Homo sapiens: one gene and its partner. The protein of the gene in region 1 interacts with the protein of each later gene in a pairwise test. Each region holds a gene or a part of one and is shown on either strand. Other genes may lie near its edges.

Region 1 (3,500 bases):
ACCCTGCAGTTTCCCGCTCACATGCCCTTCCGAGACTGAGTGCTCCGAGGACTGAGGACGAGAAATATGCCAGGTCTGCCACTGCCTTCTTACGAGACCCGGACCCAGGGGAGGCACAGCCATGCCCAGCTCCTGCCTGCCAGTTCTGTCCTCCCAGCTGCCCTACTTTCATGCTGGGACCTCCAATTCAGTACAAAGGGAGACCTCACTGTTTCTGAACCATCTCTACTCAGACTCCCAAGTGCCACGTGCCCAGGGGACTGTTCTGTGACAAACTTATACACAACTTCACCCTATTCTCCTAAGAACAACCGCAGAATAGGCCTTTCAGGATGAGTGGGAGGACAGCCGAGGGCAGGGATGTGCTAGTGTAAGGTCGAGGCAGAGGGTGGGCTGCTGTCATGGAAAGACCCCAGGTAACTGCGTCACACACAAATTTGTGTCCTTCTCCCACAACGGGCTCTCCCGAGTTCTCTGTCATCTGCACGGCCCTGTGAGCAGGAGGGGAAACAGAGGGCTCACCCCTGCCCCCAAGGCCCAGTGTGCAAATCCATTCATCACAACGAGGTTGTGTGAGTCTCCCCAGTAGCAAGGGCTGCTGAGGAATGGAGCCCTCGTTTCCGGGGCCTGCGTGGCCCACTCTGTATTCTATGACTGTGATGGGGGAGGGTGGGGGCCACAGGACAGCTGGTGGGCTCTGCCATGGCTGGGGCTAGACATGGATTAAAAAGTGAGTATGAGCAGGGGCCTCTAGGAGTGGTGGGATAGTGCGGTGGTGGCCACATGTCATTCTACGTGCGTCCAAACCTACAGAATGTAAAACACCAGGAGGGAGACTCAAAGAAAACTATCAACTTTGAGTGCTGAGGACGTGTCAGTGTAGGTTCGTCAGTTGCAACAAATGGGCCACGCTGGTGTGAGATGTTGATCACGGGGGAGGCTGTGTAGTGGGGGACAAGAGTTATATGGGAACTTTCTGTACTTTCTGCTCGATTTTGCTGTGAACCTAAAGTCACTCTAAAAAATAACATCTCTTAAATTTTTTAAAAAGTGAGTGTGTCAAACCACAGCCTTTGGGTCAGGACAGTTCTAGGTTTGAGTTGACCTGGCAGGTACCAGTGGCTTATGTCCCTTAAGGTGACAGATGCAAAACCCCCGGTTTGGTGCCTGGCATGTTGTGTGTCTTGCAGGTGGCGGTTAGGGCTGCCTCAGTGAACTCAAATGGCTGCATTTTACAGGAGAAATATTTGAGCCACACTTGCGGTCCTGTGGCCAGGAGAATGCAGAGTGGCCTGGGGGGGGCCAAGGAAGGAGGCTGAGGCAGGGCGAGGGGCAGGATCTGGGCCTTTGGTGTCTGCCAGCCCTCATTCCTGCCCCTGTCTTGGGTGACTCTTCCCTCCCTGTCTCCTGTCTGGATTTCAGGGAAGATGAAGGGCTTCTCCCTGCTGGCCGAGCCCCAGGAGTTCTGGGTGGACAACAGCACCTCAGTGTCTGTTCCCATGCTCTCTGGCATGGGCACCTTCCAGCACTGGAGTGACATCCAGGACAACTTCTCGGTGACTCAAGTGCCCTTCACTGAGAGCGCCTGCCTGCTGCTGATCCAGCCTCACTATGCCTCTGACCTGGACAAGGTGGAGGGTCTCACTTTCCAGCAAAACTCCCTCAACTGGATGAAGAAACTATCTCCCCGGTAGGAGCCTCCCGGTCTCCCCTGGAATGTGGGAGCCACACTGTCCTGCCCAGGCTGGGGGCGGGGTGGGGAGTAGACACACCTGAGCTGAGCCTTGGGTGCAGAGCAGGGCAGGGCCGCGGTGGCACGGGGCTGGGCAGGCGGCCTGTGTGTCTGTCTACCAGTCCTCTATCCAGCCAGCACCCAGCTCTCCAGTTAGTGTCTGTCTTTCAAGTGCAGGCAAGGTAAAGGAGGAGAGGAAGAATGCTTTTTCTACACTTACACTTGCCTGGTAGTTTTGGAGGGGGAGAAAACATTGCAATCCGCCCTCTGAGAGAGGACCATTTTGGTCCCACACCTGACACACAGCACACCTGTGACATCCAAGAGCTTCTTGGAACTGACTTGCCAGGAGGGTTCGGACTTCGCGTGAGCGGGGGTGGGGCCTTCTCAGGGAGCGTCCCTTGACTCCAGAACGCCCTTGCTGGCGGCTGGCGGCTGGGTGGGGATAGGTGTTGTTAGCTCCTCTTTCCTGCTGCAATTCCTTTCCACAGAGCCCTGGACTCAAACTACACATCACCCCAGATCATCGAGGCCTGGAAATCTGCTCCCAGAGGCAGGCATTGAGTGACACGATGGCTTGACATCAACTCTGGGTGTTTTTTATGTTTTAAAAATTGTGATGGTAAAATATACGTAACAAAATTTGCCATCGTAACCATTTTCGAGTGCACAGTTCAGTGGTACTAGGCCCATTCACACTGTTGTGCAGCCATCACCCCCGTCCATCTCCATTTATCTTCTCAACTTCCCAAACTGAAGCTCTGTCCTGCTGAAACACTAACTCTCCATTTCCCCTTCCCCTTGGCCCCGGCAACCACCACGATGTCCTCGAGGTTCACCCATGTTGTAGCACATGTCAGAATGTCCTTCCTTTTGAAGGCTGAATAATATTCCATTGCATGTGGTTACCACCTTTTGTGTATCCACTCATCCATCGATGGACACGTGGGTTGCTTCCACCTTTGAGCTGCTGTGAATAGTGCAGTGTACCCTGTAAACATGGGTGTACTGTCAGCTCTTATAAGTGCTTGATACATCACTGGAAATGTCCATGGGCTCTGAAGGATGCCAAAAGATGGAAGAGGCTCTATACGAAGATCAATCGAGTTGACATAGCAACGTGTCCAGCACGAGGTTGACACTGTACCCTCCTGCCTCTCTCCTTTTCATGGGTGTCATGTCATCAAGAACACTGCTGTGGCAGTAGTAAGACACAGTGCATTATTTCAGAGAATAGCATTTAAAAATTACCCAAGTAACACACCTTCAATGCAGCCAACCTAAAAACAGAATGCACCAAAGGACAACCATTCCTAGGTCCTCATCGGTAAATCTTCTATGTCCCTCACATAGTATTGCAAATGACATGAAGGATTTTTATTGTAGGTTTTGCTGAAATTTTCCCCAAGGGGGAGGATGACTTAGTTGGGTGATGGGGGGAGCAAACATCCCTGTCGTCAGGGTTGGGTGCAAGGAGCATAAGCCTGCCTGGCCTCTGGGAGAGCCCTCACTGTGTGGCCTGGAGCCTTCCTAACTGTGCATCATCTCCCCAGGACCATCCACCTGACCATGCCCCAACTGGTGCTGCAAGGATCTTATGACCTGCAGGACCTGCTCGCCCAGGCTGAGCTGCCCGCCATTCTGCACACCGAGCTGAACCTGCAAAAATTGAGCAATGACCGCATCAGGGTGGGGGAGGTATGTGTGAGCCTGTGTCTGTGCCTGACCTGGGTTCCAAGTGTGCACAGGGTGGGAGGCATGGATGTAA
Region 2 (3,500 bases), on another chromosome or scaffold:
TCTATTTGTACCCAACATCCACTCATTCAGCACGTAATTCAGCACCTCCAAATCCTGGCCCTCAAAGAACACAGCTAAGAACAATGTGTGTGTAATTATCAAGTAATAGGAATGATACTTTTAAAACTGGAAATTATACATTCAAATGAGATTTCTCTCCTTTAACCAGTCCCCTTGGGAGGCAATGCAGTAATTCCAATGGTACTTCATTACTCAAATCATCTTTGAAGCTTTCTTCTTGGAAGCACCTTGAGAACCTGCAGTCTGATCTTCTGACTATCCCAAATGGTGCTAAATTTTCACTGAGGGTGGATTCAAATTTTGGAAATGGCAAACAGTCAGTCAGAGCCAAGGTTAGTGAATAAGATGTGTGATCAAACTAGGTGGAACTATTTTGGTTGAAAATGATAGATGATCATAAAGCAATGAGATGGATCTTCTTATGTGATATGTAAACTGACTTTAAAGGGAATTCCAGATGAGTAACAAGGAGTATGAACAATGGAATAGGTGTATACATTCTCTTTCCCCAAGTAACCTCTTTGAATAACAACACTCATTTGGATGTATAAGCGCCACTAACAGGTTTGTTTTGTTTAATCACTTACAATTTGTAAATAGAGGGTTCCTTAGCATACTGGATCTACAATGTCATGGAGGAAAGGAGTTGTCACTTAACTAGAACTATGGCATGGCACGCAGGAAAGAGCACAGGCTTCATGAGACTGACGTGGATTCGAATGTTGACTTAGATTCTTCCTGCCTATGCAACTTCAGGGAAGTCACAAGCTGTCAAGACTTTAAAATAAGGCTGATACCTAATTTTGCAGGGTTGTTGTAAAGATCATGGATAATGGATGCAAAGCCCCTACATTGGGCCTGGCATGTGGTGGGTACTCAAGAAGTCACAGCTATTATTAACAGCAACATCAGTAAAATCAAGACCATTTTCTGACTGTAGGTGGCTTGAGAGGACAGAACAACAGATAAGCAGTCACTTGAGTGGTAAGTAGTTCATTGACAGTACTGACAGTACACTCGTGCATTAGATACTGCTTTCTTAAAAACAATAACCTGTAAAAACTATTTGCAGTAACTATGTATTTTTAATTCATACGACACATATCATCTGCAGTGCTCATACCACATGGACCTCTTCACTACCTGAACATACCAGGCACTATCATGACCCCATGCCTTTGTGTACTTTGTCCCTTCTGAGATACTGAAAGGGGCCAGCCCCTCCACACCTGTGGGTATTTCTCGTCAGGTGGGACGAGACTGAGAAAAGAAATAAGACACAGAAACAAAGTATAGAGAAAGAACAGTGGGCCCAGGGGACCGGCACTCAGCATACGGAGGACCCGCACCAGCGCTAGCCTCTGAGTTACCTCAGTATTTACTGATCATTATTTTTACTATCTTAGCGAGGGGAGTGTAGCAGGGCAACAGGTGGGGAGAAGGTCAGCAGGGAAACGTGAGCAAAGGAATCTGTATCATGAATAAGTTCAAGGAAAGGTACTGTGCCTGGATGTGCACGCAGGCTAGATTTATGTTTCTCTTTACCCAAACAACTCAGTGTAGCAAAGAGTAACAGAGCAGTATTGCTGCCAGCATACTTCGCCTCCAGCCACAGGGTGGTTTTCTCCTATCTCAGAATAGAACGAATGGGAATGGTCAGCTTTACACAGAGACATTCCATTCCCAGGGATGAGCAGGAGACAGAAGCCTTCCTCTTATCTCAACTGCAAAGAGGCCCCGCTCTTTCACTACTCCTCCTCAGCACAGACACTTTACGGGTGTCGGGCTGGGGGGTGGTAAGGTCTTTCCTTTCCCACAAGGCCATATCTCAGGCTGTCTCAGTGGGGGGAAACCTTGGACAATACCCAGGCTTTCTTGGGCAGATGTCCCTGCGGCCTTCCGCAGTGCACTGTGTCCCTGGTTAATCGAGAATGGAGAATGGCGATGACTTTTACCAAGCATACTGCCTGCAAACATATTGTTAACAAGGTACATCCTGCACAGCCCTAAATCCATTAAACCTTGATTCATTACAGCACAGGTTTCTGTGAGCACAGGGTTGGGACTAAAGTTACAGGTTAACAGCATCTCAAAGCAGAAACAATTTTTCTTAGTACAGATCAAAATGGAGTTTCTTATGTCTTCCTTTTCTACATAGACACAGTAACAATCTGATCTCTCTCTCTCTTCCTCACAAGGTACCCTTCCTACTCTCTGGTCTGATGACAACCCTACAATTCTAGCTCAAAAGTCTGGCTCAAAAGACTAGCTCAATTCAAAATCTAGCTCAAAAGTCATTTCCACTATAGACTCTTCCCTGCCTGCTCGAGACAGAATTAGTAGCTCTGCCATTTGTACTTCTAAGACATTTGGTTTCTTTCACTGTAATGCCTCATACTCTATTGAATTCTTATTTCCCTTTCATTTCTGCTTCTTCCACTAGGCTTACGCATTGAGAGGAGGACTATATTCCTTTATTTTTGTACTTAGAGCACCTAGTACATCACTTGGCACGAGATAGGAATCTAGATGTTTGAGGAATCAATGTTATAATATACTTTGCAAATAACTGTTAGAGGCCAGGTAGCTGACTTTAGTGAACTATATTACCAGCAATCGCATTCCTTTTTCCTGCTTCAAACAAGAGACAAGATAACTTATATGGACTCCAGAATGTCTTCTGAAGATGGAGCATACAGAAGTCTCCAAACACTACTGATCTCATCAGTACCCCATGCCCACAAGTTGGAACCCCCAGAGCAACACTTCTCAGCCTTTGTTCCAGTCTAGCACACCTGAGGGATACACCACACTCCCATCAGGAGCTCACAACAGATGACTAAGAAGGCCCAGCAGAGTTTTCACAGCCTTCCAGTGCCACATGGCTACCAGGGTGGAAGGGCCTTCTCTGAACCAGCAACTCCCCCAAAGTAGCAGAAAATTTCAAGGCTCCATGGTGAGTGCCGGGAGCCCACCTAATGCTACCTACTACCAGATCCCTACCACCTACAATGCCTCAGAATCAGTTTGCCTACTCTAAGAACAGGGCTCTTTCACTGTTAGGAAGCCTCAGGCATTCAAGGAAGGACTTGTTTGTGGGTCCGGTACATCTGTTTCGGCATGTCTTAACCTGCATAACTAAAAAGCAATTATGAAAAGAAGTTCATGATCAACCAGTTCAGTGCCAGATGGAAATAGGTAGAGTGGGTCAGCTGGCAGCCCTGTACATCTGAGTGTTGACACTTGTGAATCATTCTCTGTCACTATAGTTTCCAGAGCCTTGCCAACGCAGCAGTGGGTTCAGACTTACCAAGATCCAAAAGGCTGGAAAGGGGATCTGGAGCCATGACCCATGCCTTGGGACCCACCAAACCATGACAGTGACTATTTCTATGACAAAGACATGCTCTTCAAAGTAAATATAGCCATATTCTGCCTTAGTGCCATGTTCTCTCCCATCTCTCCAAAGCAATGGCTGC

What was found. Proteins that work in one complex are often made in the same cells at the same time.
Region 2: the proteins of AGT (region 1) and TMEM185A interact in binary tests that used the Homo sapiens proteins (3 or more experiments, as listed by UniProt).

What each region holds. Positions count from the first base shown.
Region 1 is NC_000001.11:230,704,123-230,707,622, reverse strand, and holds part of AGT (angiotensinogen precursor), read left to right. Parts: intron 1-1,422; coding exon 1,423-1,690; intron 1,691-3,285; coding exon 3,286-3,430; intron 3,431-3,500. UniProt on the Homo sapiens protein: Essential component of the renin-angiotensin system (RAS), a potent regulator of blood pressure, body fluid and electrolyte homeostasis.
Region 2 is NC_000023.11:149,625,293-149,628,792, forward strand, and holds part of TMEM185A (transmembrane protein 185A), read right to left. Parts: intron 1-3,500.